Linked DNA regions of Homo sapiens: region 2 is linked to region 1. A link means that fine-mapping ties the variant in region 1 to the expression of a gene that starts in the linked region. Tissue or cell type: whole blood. Region 1 holds a variant in brackets; the other region holds the start of a gene. All regions are shown on one strand. Distances are between the middles of the regions.

Region 1 (8,186 bases):
AAACAATTAGTTTAAAAAAATATTATTTGGCCAGGCACGGTGGCTCACGCCTATAATCCCAGCACTTTGGGAGGCAGAGGTGGGTGGGTCACAATGTCTAGAGTTTAAGACCAGCCTGGCCAAGATCGTGAAACCTTGGCTCACCTAAAAATACAAAAATTAGTGGGGCATGGTGGCAGGCGCCTGTAATCCCACCTGCTCGGTAGGCTGAGGCAGAGAATTGCTTGAACCTGGCAGACGGAGGCTGCAGTGAACTGAGATCATGCCACTGCACTCCAGCCGCGGTGACAGGGCGAGACTCCATCTCAAAAAGAAAAAAAAAAAAAAAAAAAAAAAAAAAAAATATATATATATATATATATATATATATACACACACACATATATATATACACATGTGTATATATATACGCGTATATACACACGTGTGTATATACGCGCGTATATATATACGCGTGTGTATATACACGCATATATATATATTTTTTTCAGTCAAATCCCTAAGATCTAGGGCTTTGCAATAAATATATAAAGAAATCCCAAATATCCACACTGAAAGTATAAAAGAAATGCTAATTGATAATTAGAGAACTACAACTTTTCCTTAGCTTTCAAGTAATCTAGAAACAAAGAAACTTTCTAATATTTAGACAGACACTACAAAGTACCTTACAAGGAAAGACGTGTAAGGATGGCATGACTCACCAGCAGCCCTGGGTTTGTCCACAGTACCCCCATGATGAAACAGCAACTCCATTGTGTAAATGCTCATGAACAAACTATTACAGGACTTTTCCAGTTTAGACACACTGTATTTTCTTTCAGACAATTCTTCAACTTGTTTACGTAGATCAGTGATACGACTATTCCATTTTTCTGAAAACTGACCAGAAGTTGATTCTCAATAATACATCCCTATACCACAGCAGCAATAACATATAATGACTTATTTCCTGTATTTTACATCCTAACAGATCATATCATTTTACTGCTTTCAAAAAAATTGTTCCCCTTTTTGGTGGTTCTTAGAATTAGTTTAATGGGAGACTATAAGAGAAGTTTTAAAGTTTAGTACCTCTTTTCAGCCTTTTAATTTATGAAAAGCAGGAGTGCAGAAAAGATCAATCAAATTAAACATGACAACAGGGAGGCCACAATGAGGAGGTCTCCAGGGGTCTTTTAGCAAACTTCCTAAAACATGTCTCAGCTGTATGGAAGTAATATTTTACAGTGGTGGTGGTGCAGGCCTGTAATCCTAGCATTTCAGGAGCAGAGGCTGGGCAGACCGCTTTGAGCTAAGGGCAATACAGTGGAAAACCCCCTCCCCTCCCCCACCCCCCAGTCCCACCCCGTCTCTACCAAAAATACAAAACCTAGCCAGGCTTAGTGGCAGGCGCCGGTAGTCTCAGCTACTCGGGAGGCTAAGGCAGGAGAATTCCTTGAACCCAGGAGGTGGATGTTGCAGTGGGCTGAGACTGCGCCACTGCCAGCCTGGATGACAGAACAAGACTCTGTCTCAAAAAAGAAAAAACAAAAACATAAGGTTAAGAGAGACCCCAGACCTTACAGATACAAGTTTAACAGGGACCCCAAAGCAAAAAATCCCAACCCTTTTTCTCCCAATCATTGAAACACCAGGAGGGTGTAATAGTTTTGCAGCCTAGCTGTAGTAGGCTGATGCCCCCAAGATGCCCACATCATAATCCCTGGAACCGGTGAACATGACCTTATATGGCAAAAGGGGCTTTGCAAGTATAATGAAGTTAAGAGTCTTTGGCCAGCTTGTCCCCACAGGGTTTATGTACTCACCTGGATCCTTATAAGAGCAGAGCAGGTGATGGAGAGCGGTGGGAGGTGTAGTGATGAAAGCAGGAAACGCGAGTCATTCGAGAAGGGCAGCACAAGCTGAGGAGTACAGGCCGCCTCCAGGGCCAGGAAACAGATTCTCCCGCAGAGCCTGGGAAGGCACTGACCCTGCTCCCACGTTGACTCAGTGGGACTGACTTTAGAATTCTGGCCTTCAGAAATGTAAAGGAATACCTCTGTGCTGTTTTAAGCCACTAAGTGTGTGGTAATTTATTGCGGCAGCAACGGGGAACTAGTATTGTAGTGAAGCCTCAATACCCACCTGAAGGGGCCAGGCGCAGTGGCTCACGCCTGTAATCCCAGCACTTTGGGAAGCCGAGGTGGGCAGATCACTTCAGATCAGGAGTTCCAGACCAGCCTGGCCAACATGGTGAAACCCCGTCTCTACAAAAATTAGACAGGTGTGGTGGCGCATGCCTGCAATCTCAGCTACTCAGGAAGCTGAGACATGGGAATCACTTAAACACGGCAGGGGGGCGGGGAGGGGGTGAAGGTTGCAGTGAGCTGAGATTGTGCCACTGCCCTCCAGCCTGGGTGACAGAGTGAGACTCCGTCTCAAAAAAAAAAAAAAAAAAAAAACCCACCTGAAGAAGGTTTCCAGTTCTGCCAGCAGTCCCCCACCCAACCCCCAGAAGCAGACATTCCTTTGCTGTGGGCCATGGACAGGCAGAAGGAAGTGCCTCCTCATGGCAGAGGCCTACCCAGGAGAAACCCAAGGTAAGGCACTGCCAGGCCAGCCCCTCTGCCAAAGCCATTTTCTTTTTTCTTTTTTTTGAGACACAGTTTCACTCTGTCTCCCAGGCTGGAGTACAGTGCCACGATCTTGGCTCACTTCAACCTCTACCTCTCCAGTTCAAACGATTCTCCTGCCTCAGCCTCCCGAATAGCAGGGATTATAGGAGCGTAGCATACCTAGCTAATTTTTTTAGTAGAGATAATGGTTTTGCCATGTTGCCCAGGCTGGACTTGAACTCCTGGCCTCAAGTGATCCACCTCTCTCAGCCTCCCAAAGTGCTGGGATTACAGGCGTGAGCCACCGCACCCAGCACTCGTCAAGGTCTTTGATGGCAGGTTTTTCCAGGTGATCAGTCCTTGTCTGGTCTGGCTCTGTCACACTCTCCCTCTCACCAAGTTCGAACCCCTAGCTAGTTTTCAGAGGAGGAGAGTGTGTACCCCAATCCCAGCTTGGTATGGTTCAGATCTGTATTTGGCTCAGGAAGCCTGGCTGCTCCCCAGGCCCTGGAGAAAAAAAGGGTCTCGCTGCAGGTATGATACAAGACGGGCCTGTCCCCAGGACCGTGTAAGAGGGAAGCCCAATGTGCCACCAGGTTGGCAGGGCTGGGGAAGGGAAAGTGTTATGGTAGCCCCAAGACTAAAAAGAGGCAGCAGAGGGAGCAGGACAGTGCTCCCATGGAACTCATGCCGCTGCCTGAGTGAGGTGAGGGAAGAGTGCACCCACTGACATCAGGGGGCAGAGAGGTGCGGTTCCAGCGCGGCTTTTCCTGCTTCTTGCCATGTTACTCTGATCCCCTCCAGGTGAGCCCGCCCATTTTGGGCCCAGGGTTGCCGCTGGGGCCTGTACCCAAATGCAGCCCCCCATGGCCATGGCCCCAGGAGTGCGGCAGAGCAGGGAGGAGTCCTGGAAAGAGGAGACGCAGGGGCAGGAAGGAATGGGCCTCAAACTCCAGGAGGGGGTCCTTCTCATGGGTCCTGCTTTCTGGCCTCTCCTCGCTTACCCCTGGGCTGATCCCCCTGGGAAGAACTGAGCCAAGGTTTCTCACTCTCAAATCCGAGGGATTCAATTACCGGGCCCTTAGGGAGGTGTCAGCCCCCTGAAACGATGCAAGGTGCCCGGCCTAATTTTTATATTTTTAGTAGACATGGGGTTTCACCATGTTGGCCAGGCTGGCCTCGAGTTCCTGACTTCAAGTGATGGCCTGCCTAGGGCACCGAAAATGTTGGCATTACAGGCGTGAGCAAACGCGCTCGGCCAGCTCTATTTATTTCAGCCTATACATTTTGCACTTGTTAAAAGTATTTGAACATACAATTCTGTTTTCTTTAAGCAGTCCCTCCCTGTTGCACACTTGGATAGTTTTTTTACTTTTTTAGACAGGGTTTACCTCAGTCTCGCAGGCTGGAGTGCTGTGATGGGATCATAGCTCACTGCAGCCTTGAACTTTGGGGTTCAA[G/A]TATCTGGGAAGCTGAGGTGGGACTACAGAGATGGGGTCGCGCCACGTTGCCTAGGCTGCTCTTTAACTCCTGGCCTGAAGGGATCCTTTCACCTCGGCGCCCGGATATAGTTTTCTAGTTTTGACCCACAGAAACACCGTGCTGGGTCAGAGTTTGTCAACCACCCTTCTCCAGCCAGCAACACACAGAACATGGCGGGGAAGTCGCGGTTACCAGGCACCACTCTGAAGACAAAACAGCCCAGCTCCAGGCACTGTACCGTCACTCTGACGACGCGGAAGGCCTGGCGCTATTGCGTCGCCGAGGGCCCGCGCCTGTGACGTCAGCGAAGGCGCTCCCCAGTGACGACAGAGAGCCACGCCCCTCATGTGGAACCAATCGGAACTCGAGGAGCGGCTGCCGGGTCGTCCAGAAGCGCGCATGCGCAGACGCGTGGCCACAGCCGGCCGGTCAGTGTTCGCAGGCTCCGACCCGGCGGCCAACACCAGTAAGCTACAAGGAGGAGCTTTCCCACTGCCTGTGCTACTACTACCGGCGCGACTTCCCAGCCTGCAGCGTAGGGCGCAGCAAGGGCCTGACGCTGAGCGAGCAGGCGCTGCACACCAAGCGGTTGTCGCCTGGCGGGCACAAACAGAAGGTCGGGCAGAAGCTCCTTAATGGCCACTGCAAGCCGGCTAGCTCCGGCTGCAGCCGTTGCCGCACACTCGCCTCACCTGAGGCTGGGTACGTGCGCCCCCCAACACCTCCTCCAGCCAGGGACCGGGGACCCCGCAGCGTCCCCCGCCGCCCGGCGCCGCTCATCCTGGGCAGGCTCGGCTCCCTCTGAGGCTGCCCCGCTTTAGGGAGCTGAACCCCCCATCTTGACAGCTGATGGCCGTTGCAACAACATTAAAGCCTTTGGAACTTTGTAGCGGGGGTACAAGGGGCTAGGAAACGCAGAAAACATCTTTTTAAAAATATAAGCGATCGGGCCGGGCGCAGTGGTTCACGCCTGTAATCCAGCACTTTGGGAGGCCGAGGCGGGTGGATCACGAGGTCAGGAATTCAAGACCATCCTGGCTAGCATGGTGAAACCCCGTCTCTACCAAAAATACAAAAATTAGCCTGGCGTGGTAGCGGGCACCTGTAATACCAGCTACTTGGGAGACTGAGGCAGAGGCAGAGAATTGCTTGAACCCGGGAGGCGGAGGTTGCAGTGAGGCGAGATCGCGCCACTGCACTCCAGCCTGGGCGACAGAGAGAGAGACTCCGTCTAAAAAAAAAAAAAATTGGTATTCTGATGTATATTGCACAGTGTGTCAACCTCAAATAATCAACAGGGTCAGAATCTAAAGGGAGTTTATTCATGCAGAGTTTAAGGAGGGCCACCTGGGAAGCACAGATACCCAAGAGTGGAAGACAGTGTTCCAAGGCTTAGAAGTTTGGGATCACTTGCATAGACAAAGTTTAGGGAAGCTTAGCAGAATTTCAGCATCTCTCCGTTTAAGGCTTAATACATAGTTAAAACAATCTGATTGGTCCAGGTGGTCTTTCTTTCACTCTGTCACCCAGGCTGGAGTGCAGTAGTGCAATCGCAACTCATTACAGCCTCAGCCTCCCTGGCTCAAGCGATCCTCCCACCTGGGCATCCCTAGGAGCTGGGACTACAGGCGTGCACCAACACACCTGACTAATTTTTGTATTTTTTGTAGAGACAGGGTTTCACCACATTGCCCAGGCCAGTCTCAAATTCCTGGGCATAAGCAGTCCTCTCACTTCGGCCTCCCAAAGTACTGGGATTACAGGCATGAGCGACTGCACCCAGACGAGGTGGTCTTTTTTCCGGGAAAGGTGTATTTTACCTTCTACACTGAAGATGTAAGTCATGGGGTCTTTTGTGCCATCTGGTGTGAGTTAGGTACAGAACAATAAAGGAGGCAGTTAATCTGTAACAAAGATAAGTGATTGTAAGGAGAGGACGACTAGTCTCTGGTCTCTCATAGTCATTTGCAGAATGAAAATAATAAGGAAGGAATAAATTATAATTTAAGAAGCAGAAGTTACAAACATGCTATGTGACTCGGTCAGGGTGTAACTTCCCTCTTGGCATGATAAATTTATAGAGGGTCCTGATACTTTTTTTTCTTTTATACTTGCTAGATTCTCTGCACTGTTGATCCCACAACAATTCTTCCAGGTAGATGCTGCTATCCACTTTTTTGTTGTTTGTTTTCGAGACAGATTCTTGCTCTGTCATCCAGGCTGGAGTGCAGTGGCGTGATCATGGCTCACTGCAACCTCTGCCTCCTGGGTTCAAGCAATTCTCCAACCTCAGCCTCCCCAGTAGCTGGGATTACAGGTGCCCACTACCACACCCAGCTAATTTTTGTGTTTTTACTAGAGACCAGGTTTCACTTTGTTGACCAGGCTGGTCTTGAACTCCTGACCTCAGATGATCCACCCGACTCGGCCTCCCAAAGTGCTGGGATTACAGGCATGAGCCACTGTGCCCCGCCCACATTTTAGAAAACGGATTCTAAGGCACAGAGAGTTCAAGTACCTTTCCAAAGATGACACAGCTCCTAAAGTGCTAGGATTACAGGCATGAGCCACTGCTCCCAGCCTTTTAAACTCAATTTGAATTATAAATGTGATCACTATAGAAAATATGTGTATTATTTATCTGCTGCTATGTAACAAATTACTCCAGACCTAGTGGCTTAAAATAAATACTTAGGGCCAGGCACAGTGGCTCATACCTGTAATCCCAACACTTTGGGAGGCCGAGGTGGGCAGATCACTTGAGTCCAGCAGTTTAAGATCAGCCTGGGCAACATAGTGAGACTCCATCTCTACAGAAAATGCAAACATTAGAGGATTTTGCATGTGTGTGCTTTTTCTGTTTACACATGTATGATATGAAACAGTTAAATGATAGAGAACTGTGTAACACATGGAGCAGGTGCAGTGGCTCATGTCTGTAATCCTAGCACTTTGGGAGGCCAATGTGGGAGGATCACTCGAGCCCAGGAATTCGAGACCAGCTTGGGCAACATGGCGAAACCCTTTCTCTACAAAAAATTTTAAAAAGTAGCCAGCCGTGGTGGTGCACGCCTCTAGTTCCAGCTACTGAGGAGACTGAGGCAGGTGGATCGCTTGATCCCAGGAGTTTACAACCAGCCTGGGCAGCATAGCAAGACCCCATCTCTACAAAAAATAAAACAATTAACTGGATTTGGTGGTATATACCTGTAGTCCCAGCTATTCGGGAGAATTGCTTGAGCCCAAGAGGTTGAGGCTGCAGTGGGCTGTGATTGCACCACTGCACTGGGCAACAGAGCAAGACCCTGTCTCTTAAAACAAAACATACCAAAAACTATGTAACACATGAAGGAAAGCTGCAATCACATCTTCCTCAGGCAACCACTAGTATTCCTAGTATCTACCCTTTGTATGTTTTTTTCTATGTGCTAACTCATGTGATGACTATTTTAAACAAATTGTCCTGTGTTCTCACCTGGATTTTTTTTGTTTGTTTTTTTGAGACGGAATCTCACCCTGTTGCCCAGGCTGGAGTGCAGTAGCACAACTTCGCTCCAACCTCCACCTACCAGGTTCAGCCGATTCCGTATGTGAAAACACTGATTTACAAAGCCAAAATATATCTTAGTTTTATTTCCTGTATGCCCTCAATGAGGTCGTCTCTATTTTTTTTTTTTTTTTAACAGAGACCAAGGTCTCACTATGTTGTTCAGATTGGTCTTGAACTCCTGGCCTCAAGTGATCCTCCTGCCTTGGCCTCCCAAAAGGCTGGGATAACAGGGCTGAGCCACTGCGCCTGGCTGAGGTTCTCATTAAATGAAAATAAAGGCCAGGTGCAGTGGCTTATACCTGTAATCCCAGCCCTTTGGGAGTCTGAGGTGGGTGGATCACCTGAGTTCAGGAGTTTGAGACCAGCCTGACCAACATGGTGAAACACCGTCTCTACTAAAAATACAAAAAATTAGCTGGGCGTGGTGGCAGGCACCTGTAATCCCAGCTACTCGGGAGGCTGAGGCAGGAGAATCGCTTGAACCCAGGAGGCAGAGGTTGCAGTGAGCTGAGATTGTGCCACTGCACTACAGCCTGGGTGGGTGACAGAGCGAGACT
Region 2 (8,152 bases), 59 kb before region 1:
TCTCATGTGAGTGCTCACCAAAGGGTGACCTCAGCGGAGGAGGATTTTAATAATCAAGTGGACAGGGTGCCTCATTCTGTAGACACCACTCAGCCTTTTCCCCAGTCACCACTGCCATCGCCCAATGGGCTCATAAACAAAGTGGCCATGGTGGCAGGGATAGACTTTCTCAGCAACATGGACTTTCACTCACCAAGGCAGACCTGGCTACAGCCACTGCTGAGTGCCCCATTTTCCAGCAGCAGTGCCCAACACTGAGCCCTTGATATGGCATCATTCCTTGGGTGATCACACAGCTACATGGTGGCAGATTGATTATATTGGACTTCTTCCATCATGGAAAGGGCAGAGGTTTCTCCTCCCTGGAATGGACACTCCAGATATGAGTTTGCCTATCCTACACGCAATGCTTCTGCTAAGACTACCATCTGTGGATTCACGGAATGCCTTATCCACCGTCATGGTATTCCACACAGCATTGCCTCTGACCAAGGCACTCACTTTACAGCTAGTGTGACAGTGGGCTCATGCTCTTGGAATTCACTGATCCCACCATGTTCCCCACCATCCCGAAGCAGCTGGATTGATAGAATGGTGGAATGGCCTTTTGAAGTCACAATTACAATGCCAACTAGGTGATAATACTCTGCGGGGCTGGGGCAAATTTCTCCAGAAGGCCATGTCTGCTCTGAATCAGCATCCAATATATGGCATTGTTTATCCCATAGCCAGGATTCACAGGTCCAGGAATCAAGGGGTGGAAGTGGAAGTGGCATCACTCACCATCACCCCTAGTGATCCACTAGAAAATTTTGGCTACCTGTTCCCACAACATTACATTCTGCTGGTCTAGAGGTCTTAGATCCAGAGGGAAGAAAGCTGCCACCAGGAGACACAACGATTCCATTAAACTGGAAGTTACGATTGCCACCTGGACACTTTGGGGTCCTGCCACTTTTAAATCAACAGGCTAAGAAGGGAGTTACAACCTTCTGGGATGATTGACCCAGACTATCAAGATGAAATCAGTCTACTACTCCACAATGGAGGTAAGGAAGAATATGCATGGAATACAGGAGATGCCCTGTGATTAAGGTCAATGGGAAACTATAACAGCCCAACCCAGGCAGGACTACAAATGGCCCAGACCCTTCAGGAATGAAGGCTTGGGTCACTCCAGGAAAAAACCTGCTGAGATGCTTTCTGAAGGCAAAAAGAATACAGAATGGGTAATAGAAAAAGGCAGTCATCAATACCAGCTATGACCATGTGACCAGCTACAGAAACGAGGACTGTAATTGTCATGAGTATTTCCTCCTTTTGTTAAAAACATGTTTGTGCATATATAAGCTTGTACTAAGAATATTTCATTTCCTTTTTCCTTTATTGTGTGAATAACTTATATTGACTTCATATAAGCATCTAAGTGTTAGTTTTATATAAGGGCATTTGGGTTCAGGATTGGTGCATTTCCAGTTGTATGAAGAATACTTTTATTATTATCTTAGGCACAATTATGACCTTATTATTATCTTTATTTGAAGATTATGTATAATTTCAGAAGATGTGTATGGGTTAAAGTTGACAAGGGGTGAACTTGTGATGGTTAATATTGACTGTCAACTCTATTGGACTGAAGGATGCAAAGTATTGTTCCTGGGTGTGTATGTGAGGGTGTTGCCAAAGGAGATTAACATTTGAGTCAGGGGGCTGGGAAAGGCAGACCCGCCCTTAAACTAGGTGGGCACAATCTAATCAGCTGCCAGTGTGGCAAAAATAAAAATGAGGCAGAGGAACATAAAGAGGTGAGACTGGCTTAGCCTCCGAGCCTACATCTTTCTCCCATGCTGGATGGTTCCTGCCCTAGAACATCGGACTCCAAGTTCTTCAGGTTTGGGACTCAGAATGGCTTCCTTGCTCCTCAGCTTGCAGACAGCCTATTGTGGAACCTTGTGATCCTGTGAGTTAATACCCCTTAAGAAACTCCCTTATATATATACATCTATCCTAACAGTTCTGCTCCTTTAGAGAACTGTGACTAATACGAAGGGTGACAATAGAGGAATTTATATGCTAGACTTTTATACTTTACCTCAATTTTCATTACCTTTTGAAGAAAAAATGTTTCACATAATAATCACATAACAATAATTTATTCAAATTTATTAAGGCAGGAGCTGGGCCTAAAGAGGGTGCTGAGAGGCAGGAGCTGGGCCTGGAGAGGTCAACTGAAGGAAATTTTTGGCCTAAGGAGGCTGCCAGGAAGCAGGAGCTGGGCAAAAACAGGTTGTTGTTAGGCAGGATTTGGGCTCATAGAGGCAGCCAGGAGGCAGGAACTGGATCTTTATAAAAGGGGCAACGTAAGGCAGGAGCAGGGCCTGCAGAGTCTACCAGGAAGCAGGACCAGGGCACAAGAGGCTGACATGAGGCAGAAAGTTGCCCTTGGGAGGCCACTGTGAGGCAGGACTCTTGAAAGGACGCAAAGCTGGGCCTGTAGTGGCTGCTAAAAGGCAGGAACGTGGTCTGGAAGGCCCTGGTGAGGAAAGAGTTGGGCCAAAAGAGGCCACTAGGAGGCAGGAGCTGGGCCTCAGGAGGCTGCCATAAAACAGGAGCTGGGACTCGGAAGGCAGACATGAAGCAAAAGCTGGCCTTTGGAAGGCTGATGAAAGGGAGAAGCCGGGCCTGGTGAGGTTGACTTGAGAAAGTTTGGGGCCTGGAGAGATCCATGGGAGGCAGGAGCCAAACTTGTAGACGCTACTGGAAGGCAGGAGGTGGGCCTGGTGAGGTAAACATGAGGAAGTTCTAGGCCTGGAGAGACAAGTCGGAGAAAGGAGCTGGGGGTAAAGAGGCTGTTGTAAGGCTTGAGATAGGCCTGCAGAGGCGGCCTGGAGGCAGGAGCTGGGCCTGGAGATGCCAAATTGAGGAAGTTTTAGGCCTGCAGAGGCCGTGAAGAGAAAGGAGCTAAGCCTGGAGAGACCGATGAAAGGCAGAAGCTGGGGCTAGAGAGGCCATTGGCAGGCAAAAGCTGGGGCTAGAGAGGCCATTGGCAGGCAAAAGCTCGGCCTCTGGAGGCCGCAAGGAGACAGGAGCCGGGCCTGGTGAGGTTGACTTAAGGATGTTTTGGTCCTGGAGAGGCCGGGCCTAAAGAGGCTGTTGAAAGGATGATGCCAGGCCTGTAGAGGCCAACAGAAGGCAGGAGCTGGGCCTGAGAAGCCCAAATTAAGAAAGTTTTAGGCCTGTAAGTTCCCTAAAGAGGCAGGAGCTAGGCATGCATGGAGAGGCTGCTGTGAGGCAGAAGCTGGGCCACTAGAGGTTGCCAAGAGGCAGGAGAATGGCTTGAAGATGTAGCAGTGAAAATGAGCTGAGTCTAAAGAGGTCATTGTTAGGCAGAAGCTGAGATCCTAGAGGACACTCAGAGGTACAAGTTGGGCCTGGAGAGGTCGACTGGAAAAAATTATTGACTTAAAAAGAGCACCAAGGCAGTAGCTGGGCCTGGAGTGGACACAGGAAGGCAGAAGGTGGGACCTGGGAGGCCGCCATTAAACAGGAGCTGAGTTTATGAGGCAAAAGCTGGGCCTTAAAAGGCTGACCAGATGCAGAAGCTAGGCCTGGTGACGATGACGTGAGAAAGTTCTGGGCCTGAAGGGACAATGCAAACGCAAGAGCTGGGCCTAAATAAGCCATTCGAAAAATGGAGTTCGGCCTCAAGAAACTGCAGAAAAGCAAAAGCTGGGCTTGGAGATGCTGCAACGAGGCAGGCACAAAAATGGTCTAGCAACTGGAAACAGCTCTGGGCCTGGAGAGGATGCCGGGAGGCGAGAGCCGGGTCTGGAGAGAGGCCGCCCACAGGCAGGAGCTGGGCCTGAGGCGGCCAAGCCGAGGCACGAGCTGGGCCCGGAGGGGCCACTGTGGGGCAGAGGCCGTGCCCCCAGGGGCCTACGCCAGGCAGGAGCTGGGCCTGGCGAGGCCGACTTCGGGCCGCCTCGGGTGGGCCCGCACAGGCCATCAGCGGGAGGCAGGAGCTGGGCCCAGAGGGGCCGACGTTGAGGAAGGGAGCCTTGGGCTGGGAGACGCCGTCGGGCTGGGCGGGAGCCGGGCCTGGAGAGGCCGCCGCGAGGCACGAGCTGGGCCTGGAGGGGCCCGCGTGAGGCAGGAGCCGGGCTCGTGGAGGCTGCCGGGAAGCCGGCACGAGCATGGCCGGGGAAGGCCGCCACGAGGCAGGAGGCAGGCCTGGAGAGCTGGACCGGAGGAGGCTTCGGGTCTACGGAGGCCGCTGGGAGCTGGGCAGGAGCCGAGTCACAGGAGGATGTTCAGAGGCAGGAGCTGGGCCCGCGGGCGCAGCCACGAGCAAGGAGCTGGGCCCGGAGAGGAGGCCGGGAGGCGGCCACTGGGCTGGCAGAGGCCGACTTGAGGAAGTCCTGGGCCTGGAGAGGCTGCCAGAAGGGCAAAGGTGGGCCTCAGGAGGCCGCGGCGAGGCACGAGCCGGGCCTAAAGAGGCCATTGGGACGCAGGAGTCAGGCCCGCGGAGGCCACCGAAAGGCAGGAGTGTGGCCTGGTGCAGGCCGTGGTGAGGCACGAGATGAGCCTAAAGATGCCATCGGGAGGCAGGAGCCGGGATTGTCGGGGCTGCCGCGAGGCAGGCGGAAACGTGGCCCAGGGAGGCCAACGTGAGGCAAGAGCTGGGCCTGGAGAGGCCGCTGTCAGGCAGGAGCTGGGCCTCTCCATGCCACCGGGGAGCCAAAGGCAGGGCCTGAAAGGCCTGACTTAGAGGATCCTGGGGTTTACAAAGGCTGCCAGGAGCTGGGCAGGAGCTGGGCCGAACGTGGCTTTTGCGAGGTAGGAGCTGGGCCGGCAGGCACAGCTGAGAGGGAGAGTTGGGCCTGGAGAGGCCGGCTGGAAACAGTACTGGGCCTGGAGAGGATGGTGAGAGGCAAGAGCTTGGCCCATGGAGGCTGCCAACAGGCAGGGCAGGAGCTTCGGCTGATGTGGCCACGCTGAGGCAACAGCTGGGACTGGGGGGTTCCACTTTTAGAAGGCAGAGGCCGTGCTTCTAGGGGCCTATGACAGGCAGGAGCTAGGCCCGGCGAGGCCGACTTCAGGATACTTTGGGTCTGCACAGGCCATCAGCGGAGGGCAGGAATTGGGCCCTGGATGGGCCAACTTGAGAAAGCCTTGGGCCGGTCGGGGTGGGCGGGAGCTGGGCCTTGAGAGACCACCGTCAGGCGTGAGCTGGGCCTAGAGACCCCAGTGTGAGGCAGGCGCCGGGCTTTTTGAGGCCGCCGAGAGGCTGGCAGGAATACAGCCGGGGAAGGCCGCCGTGAGGCAAGAGCTGGGCCTGGGAAGGCCGCTGCGAGGCCACAGGTGGGCCTGAAGAGCTGTGCTGGAGGAGGTTTCGGGCCTACAAAGGCCGCCAGGAGCTGGGCACGAACCGAGTCAAAAGCGGCTGTCTGCAGGCAGGGGCTGGGCCTGGAGGTACAGCCGCGAGAGTGTGCTGGGCCTGGAGAGTAGGCCGGGAGACAGCCACCAGGACAGGGGAGGCTTGCCAATTTGGGCCTGGAGAGGCCGCCACGAAGGAAAAGCTGGGCCTTTGAAAGAGGCCATTGTGAGGGACGAGCCGGGCCTAAAGAGGCCGTCAGGACGCAGGAGCCGGACCTGCGGAAGCCGCCGAAAGGCAGGAGCCTGGCCTGGGGGAGGCTGCAGTGAGGCATGAGATGAGCCTAAAGAGGCCATCAGGAGGCAGGAGCTGGGTCTTTCGGGGCTGCCGCGAGGCAGGGGGAAATGTGTCCCGGGGAGGCCGACGCGAGACAAGAGCTGGGCCCGGAGAGGCCGCTGTCAGGCAGGAGCTGGGCCTCTCCAGGCCGCCAGGGAGCTGAAGGCAGGGCCTGGAAGGCCTGACTTAGAGGAGCCTGGGGCCTACAAATGCTGCCATGAGCTGGGCAGGAGTTGGGCCGAACGTGCCTGTTGCGAGGCAGGAGCTGGGCCGGCAGCCACAGCCGGGAGGGAGAGCTGGGCCTGGAGAGGCCGGCTGGAAACAGTTCTGGACCTGGAGAGGATGGCGAGAGGCAAGAGCTGGGCCTGTGGAGGCTGCCAACAGGCAAGGCAGGAGCTTGGCCTGAGGTGGCCATGCTGAAGCAAGAGCTGGGTCTGGGGGGGTCCACTGTGAGGAGGCAGAGGCCATGCCTCTAGGCGCCTACGACAGGCAGGAGCTGGGCCTGGCGAGGCCGACTTCAGGACGCTTTGGGCCCACACGGGCCATCGGCGGGAGGCAGGAACTTGGCCTGGAAGGGCCATCTTGAGAACGCCTTGAGCCGCGAGACGCTGTTGGGGTGGGCGGGAGCTGGGCCTGGAGACGCCACTGTGACGCCTGAGCTGGGCCTAGAGAGGCCAGTGTGAGGCGGGAGCTGGGCTTGTTGAGGCTACCGCGAGGCCGGCTAGAAAATGGCCGGGGAAGGCCGCTGTGAGGCAAAAGCTGGGCCTGGGAAGGCCGCTGTGAGGGGAGACTGGGTATGGAGTGCTGGACTGGAAGAGATTTCAGGCCTACAAAGGCTGCCAGGAGCTGGGTAGGAGCCGAGTCAAAAGAGGCTCTTTGGAGGCAGGAGCTGGGCCTGTAGACACAGCTGCGAGAGAGGACTGGGACTGGAGAAGAGGCCGGGAGGCAGCAACTGCGGTGGGGGAGGCCGACTTGAGGAATTTCTCGGCCTGGAGAGGCCACCAAAAGGGAAAAGCTGGGCCTAAGGTGGCCGTTGTGAGAAATGAGCTGGGCCTAAAGAGGCCATCAGGATGATCAGGACGCAGAGCTCGGCCTCTGCTGCAGAGGCTGCTGAAACGCAGCAGCTTGGTTTGGCGAGGCCACGGTGAAGCATGAGATGAGCCTAAAGAGGTCACTGGAAGGCAGTAGCTGGACCTGTCAGGACATGACGCTCAGGTGGTTATGCGAGCGATGGGGAGGGGCTATAAATACAAACGAATTTTCCCCTCACTTTGCTGCTCACCACCAGCTCTGTGGCCCTGTGGTGGAGACCCCTGCTCAGGTGCATTTGAAAGGTTCCGTCCCATGCCATTCTTCAGAGTCATCTTTATTGCCACAGTGGTGAAGCATAGCATCCGTTAACTCGCATGGCATATGCCTTGGCTAGCATTTCATCACAATAAACAGTAAGTGGTAGCTTCACTCATTGTGAGGACACTTCCTGGAAATCACCAGCATCCCATGTCCCATTGGCAAGAAACTCAGCACTGCTCCTTGGATAACCAAACCAAGGCTGAAATCCCATGTATATGTGTCTATCTCCTGGTACTCTTCCTAGCATCAATTCTGTATTTCTAGGAGTCCAATCAAAACATATAAACCGCTCAAAAGTTTAAACTGGAATGCGCACGGTGGCTCAAACCTGTAATCCCAGCGCTTTGGGAGGCCAAGGCGGGTGGATTACTTTGAGCTCAGGAGTTGAGACCAGCCTGGGAAACACGGCAAAACCCTGTCTCTACAAAAAGCACAAAAAAAGCACAAAAATTAGCCAGGCATGCTGGCACATACCTGTAATCCCAGTTACTTGGGAGGCTGAGGATGGAGAATTGCTTGAGCCTTCGAAGTGGAGGTTGCTGTGAGCAGAGATCATGCCTCTGCACTCCAGCCTTGGTGACAGACTGAGACCCAATACCAAAAAAAAAAAAAGTAACTTTAATATAAAAAATATTAATTATAACAGAGGATCAGCATAATGAGTGACACACTAGCACTAACTACAGACAATTCTAGAGAATACAAAACTAGCAGAGGCCAGGCATGGTGGCTCATGCCTGTAATCCCAGCAATTTGGGAAGCCTAGGTAGAAGGACTGCTTGAGGCCAAAAGTTGGAGACCAGGCTGGGCAACTTAGTGAGACACTGTGTCTACCAAAAAAAAAAAAAAATTAGCCAGGTATGGTGGTGGTGCACAACTGTAGTTCCAGCTACTTGGGAGTCTGGGGTCGGAAGATCCCTTGAACCTGGGAAGTCTAGGCTGTAGTGAACCAAGATCATGCCAGTACACTCTCGCCTGAGCAGCAGAGTGAGACCCTGTCTTAGGGAAGGGGAGGGGAAGGGAGGAGAGGGGAGGGGAGAGGAGGGGAGAGGAATGCTAATCCCCCTATAAGAATCTCCTCTTCTCCTG

The links. PIP is the estimated chance that this variant, and not a neighbour inherited with it, causes the effect.
Region 2: LINC02604 starts here. The variant in region 1 is fine-mapped to the expression of LINC02604 in whole blood (TOPMed, PIP above 0.99).

Annotation. Positions count from the first base shown.
Region 1 is chr7:66,841,185-66,849,370 of GRCh38, reverse strand. It overlaps the pseudogene GTF2IRD1P1 and the pseudogene GTF2IP23. Among named protein-coding and RNA genes, the nearest start is that of LINC02604, 59 kb to the left of the region's middle. RefSeq lists enhancers at 1-453, 3,914-4,415, 4,482-4,601, 4,416-4,916 and a silencer at 4,782-4,891. The variant G/A (reference allele first, on the strand shown) is at 4,058.
Region 2 is chr7:66,900,283-66,908,434 of GRCh38, reverse strand. LINC02604 (long intergenic non-protein coding RNA 2604) reads right to left here and starts at 4,315. Exons shown (of 1, transcript NR_136637.1): 1 at 2,138-4,315.